Linked DNA regions of Homo sapiens: regions 2 and 3 are each linked to region 1. Evidence: fine-mapped expression QTL. A gene starts in region 1. Each other region holds a variant in brackets. All regions are shown on one strand. Distances are between the middles of the regions.

The links.
Region 2: its variant is fine-mapped to the expression of ISM1 in whole blood (TOPMed, PIP above 0.99).
Region 3: its variant is fine-mapped to the expression of ISM1 in whole blood (INTERVAL, PIP above 0.99).

The regions. Positions count from the first base shown.
Region 1 is chr20:13,219,954-13,222,753 of GRCh38, forward strand. It overlaps ISM1 (isthmin 1), which reads left to right and starts at 1,321. Exons shown (of 6, transcript NM_080826.2): 1 at 1,321-1,961. The coding sequence starts at 1,824. It also overlaps a transcript of TASP1 not described here. RefSeq lists silencers at 1,104-1,223, 1,683-1,752.
Region 2 is chr20:13,253,053-13,255,852 of GRCh38, forward strand. The region is part of intron 1 of ISM1 (isthmin 1); the gene reads left to right. It also overlaps a transcript of TASP1 not described here. Among named protein-coding and RNA genes, the nearest start is that of ISM1-AS1, 15 kb to the left of the region's middle. The variant T/C (reference allele first, on the strand shown) is at 1,458.
Region 3 is chr20:13,260,495-13,263,166 of GRCh38, forward strand. All of the region lies in intron 1 of ISM1 (isthmin 1), which reads left to right. It also overlaps a transcript of TASP1 not described here. Among named protein-coding and RNA genes, the nearest start is that of ISM1-AS1, 22 kb to the left of the region's middle. RefSeq lists a silencer at 1,628-1,922. The variant A/G (reference allele first, on the strand shown) is at 1,187.

The DNA of each region.
Region 1 (2,800 bases):
GGGGGAAAGGGAGGCGTGCCGTCAAGAAAGAGTTGATTATTTATTTAATTTCATTCACCAAGGGAGAATTCGGAGGCTCCATCCCGGAGGCACTGGGGTCCGGGACGCGGGAAAGGCTTGGAAATGTGCGACGCGGCTGTGTGCGAACGCGTGGACTAGGTCTTGGCTCGCTGGGAGGGAAGGGCTGGGCCGGCGCTGGGGAGGAGGAAGGGAGGGAACGGGTAGGAGGAGGGGAAGCGCAGTATAAAAGTCCCGGCCGGACTGAGCGTCCGCTACTCCGAGTCACTTCGGTAAGGCGGGAGCCCGAGCAAGGTCAAGGAGGGAAGTGCGCGGTGCCACGGACCGACACAGTTCGCTCTAGCATCTGACGCTCGGACTCCGCGCCCTCAGCCGGATCCCAGAGCCCTTCCATTCGCCAACCGCCCACTGCAAGGCATGAGCCGCACGCGGGAGCCCGAGGCTGCAGCGCGGTCATGAGGCGGTGGCCCGGGATCGACAGCTGCGCGACGCCAGCCCCCAAATCCCCTCTGGGCGCGGCACCCCCGGGATGAGCCCCCCACAGAGGCAAGCCCACTAGAGCTGAGATTCACTCCGAGTTCCTGAGCGCCTGAGCCGCGGGCACTGCGTCTCTGCAGCTTCCAGCCAACACCTGCGCCCGTGACCAGACGAACGCCTAGAGAGTCGGACTCCCCTCCCTTCCCAGGCTCTACGGGGCGCCGCGGATCCGCGAACAGCCGTGCCCGGCTAGCGGGCGGCCCAGCAAGTGTCAAGACCCTTCGGAACGACACTTTGGCACTCCTCCTCTCCCCCGACTGCTTCAGGCAGGGGTCGCAGGCAGACGCATGGCTTGTCCGGCGCCCCCTCCGTTTTCCATCACTGCAACTCCAGCTCCAGTTTGCCAATAAAGGTTTCTAAAGCAGCCCAGGCACCACCCCACCCACCCACAGCCCCGAGCCTCAGTGTGCACAAGGGCTCTACCCGCGCCCGTCACAGCGACCTCGGCAGCGGGCACTTGGTACAGCCCGGCAGGCTGACGCTGCCGCCGAGGGCGCCCCGGCTACCGCCAAACCGTGACAACCTCGGTGTGCCCGGGGCCCCCATCTGGAACCGGCCCTCCCCGGGACTCCGAGTGCGGGGCGGCGCGGCAGGCGGCCCCGAGGAGCGCGGAGAGTAGTGGAGGTGGCTTGCCGGGTGAGTGGCTCGGGGCGGCGAGGGCGGGGGCGCCAAGCGTGGAGGTAACTCCCGGCCGCAGCTGAAGCCCTCCTACTCCTCCTCCTCCTCCTCCTCCTCCTCCTCCTCCTCCTCCTCCTTCTCCTTCTCCTCCTCCTCCTCCCCGCGCTTCTCTGGCGGCCGCTCCCGCTCCAGCTGCGGCGCCGCGGCCACATCTGGGGCGCCCATGTGCGCTCGGGGGCTCGGCTGCGCCCGCCCCGCCGCCGACCCCGCAGCCCCCTGCCAGCAGGGTGGCCTCCGGCCCGGCCCGGGTCCCGGGCTGTCCCGGGACCCAGTCTCCGTCTCCGCCGCCGCCGCCGCCAGGCAGCGCCGGGGCTTGCTCCGCAGCCGGCTTGGACACCCCCGGCCTCGCGGTGGCTCCGCCGTGGTGCGGCGGCGGCGGCGGCGGCGGCGCCGGCAGCTCCTGCTCCCCCGGCCCCGCACACCCCGCCGCGCCCAGCGCCAGCCCCGCGGGCCCGGGAAGCGGAGCCCTGGCGGGAGCCGAGGCGGGAGCCGCGCTGCCGGGCTCCCGGGCTCCTACTCCTCCTCCCCCGGCGTCACCGCCGCCGCCGCCGGCCGCCGCGCCGGGTCCTAAAGCCGCGCGTCTCAAAAGGATGGTGCGCCTGGCGGCCGAGCTGCTGCTGCTGCTGGGGCTGCTGCTGCTCACGCTGCACATCACCGTGCTGCGCGGCTCGGGAGCCGCCGACGGGCCCGACGCGGCCGCGGGCAACGCCAGCCAAGCCCAGCTGCAGGTGAGTGCGCCGCCGGAGAGGGCCGTGCGCGGCTGCGGGGACGGTTTGTGGGGCGGGGGTGCTGAGCTAGTGCCGGGTGGATGCAGGGAGGCAGGTCCCCTGCCCCACCTAAGAGCAACTGTTTTGGCAGTAGTTTTGCCCGGGCCACTTGACTTAGGCAGAGGCGGAGCGGGGGCACGTGCCTGGAGGCTGCACCCGGCTTCCAGGTCTGCGGGCTGCGCTCCTTCAGTTCTGTCTGTCACGGGTCAGGTGCGGGGTTGGTGGGGAGGTGGGAAGGAGCGAGGTTTGGGATGAGCAGAGGAAGTGTGGAGAATGTGCTTGCTTGGGGGTGCTACCAGTCTTTCGTTGCCCTTCGGAGGCTGAGTAATGTTACTCGAGGCTGGAGGGACGCAAGGAGACTTTATAGGATGATATCCCTGAAGTCTTTGGGAGAAAGAACTCCGGGAGTCTACCCCTTTAGGAAGCAATGCCAAAGGTCAGGACATAATTTCCCAAGGAGAATAGCCAGGCATCCCCTCCTCACCCTCAGGGTTCCCTTGCTTCCAGTGTTCCTCTTCCTCCGGGAGCCTCGCCTGAGGTTCCCCCCTCCCCCCTTGTGCCCCCTTGGTCATGGGGAAGGTGCAGAGTGAAGGCACCGGTAGTGATTTGGGCCAGGGTTACCTGGGGCTTTTAAACTTGTAGCAAAGTCTTTCTCCCAAGGATCTTCCCCGTTGAAGGTCGCTTTAGCAATGGGATTCTGTTTATCCATTTCAACTTCAGGGCAAGGAGAGGGCGTAGTGGACGGTCAGACATAATGTGAGTTCTGACTTAGGAATAGAATTGCCCAGCTAGGCATTTCC
Region 2 (2,800 bases), 33 kb after region 1:
GACAGACACACAGCGAGGGAGAAATCAGTTGGAGGCCTGTTGCTGCTCCATTTGGGGTACTTGCTACCCAAGCAGACCTGGCAAAGCTAGCATTTATTGGCACAGGGAAAAGCAGGAAGGAACCAAGTCTCACAGTTCATCCTCCACCTTCAGGGTTTTTGATCTTCTCACCCTGCGTGTTGATCTCTTATGTCACTTGCTCAGTGTGCAGCTTCCTTCACCCAGGGACCCAGAGGGTGAGGAGCTCTGCCTTCCCTCACGGTGTTATCATAGGGGCATTCCTGAGGAGTGGGTGACCACTCAGAGGGTCTCCCCATGCTGGATGGGAGGCCTTGGAGCTCATTCGCTGTTGATCTGATTGTGCTTTTCCAAGATAAAAGTGCACTCTTTGAGAGCGCTGTGTTTCCTGGAAAGCATCTCCCATTGCCAAAGTACCATTCAGAATGATAGCTCCTTACCGACTATCAGCCACTGTTCCTCACCTTCTCTTGGTGAGAGCAGAGGTTCTCAGATGTGAGCCTGCAGAGAATCGCCAGGAGGCCTTGCTCAAACACCTGCTGCTGGGCCCCACCCCAGAAGCTCTGATTCCACAGGGGATAGGACCCGAGAATCAGCATTTTAAACACATTTCCAGGCGATTCCAACACTGCTGGCCTGGGGCCCCCATTTTGAGAACACATGAATTAAATTAATAACTCAGTATCATTATCAGTTTTTCTGTGAGCTCAGCTAGGAAACAATGGGCTAGTTCAGATATCTTAAAATTTAAAAAAAAGCTAAAATTAAAATAACACATACACATCCATATCCATATATATATATATATGTGTGTGTGTATGTTTATACACACACATAAAAACACACTTATAAATGTGTATTTATGGGCCAGGCACAGTGGCTCATGCCTATAATCCCAGCACCTTGGGAGGCCGAGGTGAGCGGATCACTTGAGGTCAGGAGTTCAAGACCAGCCTGGCCAACATGGCAAAACCCCATCATCTCTACTAAAAAAAAAAAAAAAAAAAAATACAAACATTAGGCATGGTGGTACATGCCTGTAATCCCAGCTACTTGGGAGACTGAGGCAGGAGAATCACTTGAGCCCAGGAGGGGGAGGTTGCAGTGAGCCAAGATCACGTCACTGCACCCCAGCCTGGGCGACAGAGCAAAACTCCATCTCAAAAATAAATAAATAAATAAATAAAGCAAATGTGTATTTATATCTGCAAATATATATTTATATTTATATAACCATATACATATACTTTAAATATGTGTATATATAAGTATAAACAGATGTATATACAAATAGAAAATATTTGAATTCATATTTGACTTTGAAGAAAAGCAAGCAGATTCAGAAAATGTTCAGAATCAGAATTGAATTCAAGAGAGCAAAATACCTGCCCCCCGCATCTCCTGCTGAGCCTCATTTCTGCACCTGCTTCCTAAACCCC[T/C]GCTGCTCTCTGTTGCTTTGCCAGGGCTGCTCCTTGGTGCACTTGCTGGGTGCTCAGTGGTGACTTGGTCACAGGCAGGTGGCAAGAGCTGTTGGTACCTCCAGCACAGTCTCTATATTCTCTCTCTGGGCAAAGGGAGAAGCTGGGCACTACCCATGATATCACTCAGAGGCAGATGACTGTGCCATCCTGTGCCAGGACTCGGGGTCACCACACAGGTAAGGGCCAACACAGGAACAGAGCCAGGGAGAACTTTTCCACCTCTGCCAGAGCTTCTTCTCATCCTTCCACATCCCAGAATCCACACATGGTTCGAGAGATGTAGGAGGAGTCAACTGTGGCCACACTTATTGGGCATTGAAATCCTGTTTGTCATTCCTTCCTTTTCCATCTATTCATTGTCCCTTCCATTCATTCAGAGAGCATTTAGTGAGGTCCTACTCTGTACTGGGCTCTAGGCCAAGTGCTGAGGCACAGAAGTGACAGAACAGACACGGTCCCTGCCTCATGGTTCTGACATCCTGGTAGGGGCCACAACACAGAAGAAAGCCCATAAATAGAATAATTTCAGCTAACAAATACTACAAATTAAATAAGCAGAATGATAGAGGGGAGCTTTTAAAGGGTGGGAAAGAACACTGGTTATATAAGATGATCAGGGAAGTCCTCTCTCTCTGGAGGTGACATTTAAGCTGAGACTTGAAGGATAGAAGAGAGAATGATGGCAACCTGGACTAGGACAGTGGCAGAGGAATTTGAAAAAATGGATAAAATGCTCTTTTTGTTGTTAGCAAGTAATAAGGGACTTGAAGATGTTAACATGGCTAATGTAATTTACCCCATTGTACAGTTGAGTTTACAGTTCAGTCATTATTTGTGTGTGTGTTTTTAGCCAGAAACTGGACAAAAATAAGTAAATGTCTAATAATTTATAGAAAAAGAAAAGAAGTATATATATGGTAGAGAAGTAATGAGGAGCAAGGAGGGATTAACTCTGCTGAAGATCAGGGAAGGTTTACAGAGAAGGCAGTATCTAAATAAGGTTTTAAAGGATGCATAGGAGTTTTCTATGTGGATAAGGGAAGGAAAGACTTTGCAGGTAGAGTAGACAGAAAGAAGTGCGACACTAGGGCATCTATTAGCACTTATAAGCCTCTATATGAATTACAACAAGTCATTCCCTCTGGGAAGACAATATCACTTCCTTCATTCTCAACTTCAGCCATTACTTGCCCCCTCATCAGACATCTTTGCACCATGCACAAATTGTACAATGTACATGGCATGGTAGACCTAAGTGAAACTACAAGGGGTCCGCTGTGCCCCTGCCTATCAGGCTTTGA
Region 3 (2,672 bases), 40 kb after region 1:
TAGTCATTGCAGATAGAATCTACATTTCATGCATTTGTGAACCACTGGATTTTTATTTAATCTCCCCACCCTCAATTTGATGTTTTCAGCATTTGGAATAAAGTGGAGTTTTTTTTTTTTTTGAAGTTAGTGTGAAATAATTTCTCCAGAACAAGTGTCTCTTTAGGATTCCATTCCGAGGAAGTCAGAGCTGAATAGAGTGAGAGGCTTTCTGCAACTCTCATTCTACCTCACCATGGTCATTTCACAGAATAAATAACCAAGGTCCTATATCAGTCAGCTTTTGTTGTGTAACAAACCACACTGGGTTCACTAGCTTAAACCCGCAAGGATTTATTATTTCTCATGACTCTCTGGGTCAGCAGGGTGGCTCTCATAGCCTGGGGAGGCTCAGCCAGGGCTGGATGGTCTAGGACAGTCTCCATCTGAGTGACTGGCCATTGGCAGGCTGGTGAATCTGGTATAAATTATCTCTGCTGCACACGTCTCTCACCATTCAACAGGCTAGCTTGGCCTTCTTCACCGAGTGTTCTCAGCATTCCAAAGAGCAAAAAAAAATAGGCAATCCTAAGGCACAAGTGCTTTTCAAGTCTCTGTTAACTGTTGTCCCTTTGGCCGCAGTAAGAAGCTCAAAGAAGGCCAGGCACAGTGGCTCATGCCCGTAATCCCAGCACTTTGAGAGGCTGAGTTGGGTGGATCACCTGAGGTCAGGAATTCAAGACCAGCCTGGCCAACATAGTAAAACCCCGTCTCTACTAAAAATATAAAAAATTAGCCAGGTGTGGTGGTGGTGGGCACCTGTAATCCCAGCTACTCTGGAGGCTGAGGCAGGAGAATCGCCTGAACCCAGAAGGCAGAGGTTGCAGTGAGCCGAGATCGCGCCATTGCCCTTCAGCCTGGGCAACAAGAGGGAAGAGTGAAACTCTGTCTCAAAAAAAAAAAAAAGAAAAAAGAAGCTCAAAGAGTGTGGAAGCAACTACCTGAGGCGTGGATCTTTAGAGAAAAGAAGAATTTGTGGACATTTTTGCCAACCAGTCTACCATAAGTGCAGAGGTGCAATAACTTACCAAAGCTCACAAAACAGGAAGAGGCAATGCTGGGACCCAGACCCAGACCTTGAAACTCCTGGCCCCAGTCCTTTCCACAGTACCCTGAACCCTTTTCAGGATTCCAAGGTTAACGTCCA[A/G]TGACCTTTGAAACCCATTTTAGAAGTACTTGGAGCAGAGAGATTAGCAATAGGTTTCAATGAGGGTTCTTAACTTTAGTGTTGAGAAGAATCCATCTCCTTAATTAGGATAATAACTTGGCAAGGGTCCCTAGGCCACCCCTACCCCAGACCTCAGCTTCTGAACTCTGCCATCCATGTCCTTTGGCTTAATTTCCAGGTTCTCCCTCTCACCAACAGAACACCAGCCTTGGCCTGGGCCTTATATCCCCTCATTCTATGCAGGGAGACACAGAATCACTGCAGGAGATGTTCGCCTTCTGGTGTCCTGTTCGACACCCGTTCCCTCTGGTCGTAGGAGGACTTAGATACTTGGGCCTTTTAGGTGCACTAATGATCTGGTGCCTCTTCAAATTGGGTCCTGGAAACCGAGTCCTAGACAGTTACCACTCTGTTTTCTTTGCCGGTAATGGAGAAAGCACAACTTGGAAAATCACCAATAATCCACACTCATTAAATATTTGCTCAAAGTTTGACTTAAAGGGGTGGCTGAACTCTAACAGGGCTGAAGAGGAGGGATGGAAGCCCCCTGGTGGCCACTGGTGGCCTGGCCTTTATAGCCCTGAGCTGGTTAGCTGCAGCCTGGAAGGCTGATAGAAAGCCTTGCCCTTAACTGGATGCTGAGGATGGCTGGCCTCACACCACAAGGGCTTTATCAAAGTGGTTCTGGAAAGTATGATTTCTCCATCTCTCTACATTTGCAGGGATGTTTTAGGTGATGTGTGAAGGGTTTGTTTTTCTTTTTCTTTTTTTTTTTGGCCTAACTCACTTTCCACTCGTGTACTCTGCTTCTTACATGTTTTCTTACACTTGAAAGAATAATTTATCCTTCATTTCAGTTCATTCTTTAGCCTAACAGGACATAAAAGAAATCGGTCCTGGAAAAGCTACCACTCTGTTTTCTTTGCCAGCAATGGAGAAAGCACAACTTGAAAAAATTCACCAATAATCTGCACATTTTCAAGATCAAAGCAGTTTACAGAAGTATTCAAGACACACCAGTGAAGTGTTGATCTCCATTTTGTCAGCCGGCCCCAAGAACCTTCAATGAGGAGAGATACACAGGGATGGGTGGCCCCTCCACCTCAAAGCCAGCTCCCTACCCAAATGCAAAGAGTTGCCCATTCTTCATTTCTTCTAAAGCCTGAGATAATAAACGAGGTCACTGCCAAGCCCTAAAGTAAACATCGTTATGATACATTCTGCCGCCATAACTAGGGATTCCTCAGCTATTAGTCAGACCGTGACAGCAGGCTCCATTCCCAAACCAGGACTGAGACCCTCCTGAATTCTTGAGCCCATGATGTACCTGTGTCACTGGCTCTCAGGGCTGTCGTCAGAGTGCCCAGCAAAGACTGAAGCATACGTATGGCCGTTTCCCCTCTGCCAGCAATAGTTCCTAAAGGGGCATTGCACTGTCATGCTTGCTATAAAATACGGCCATTGA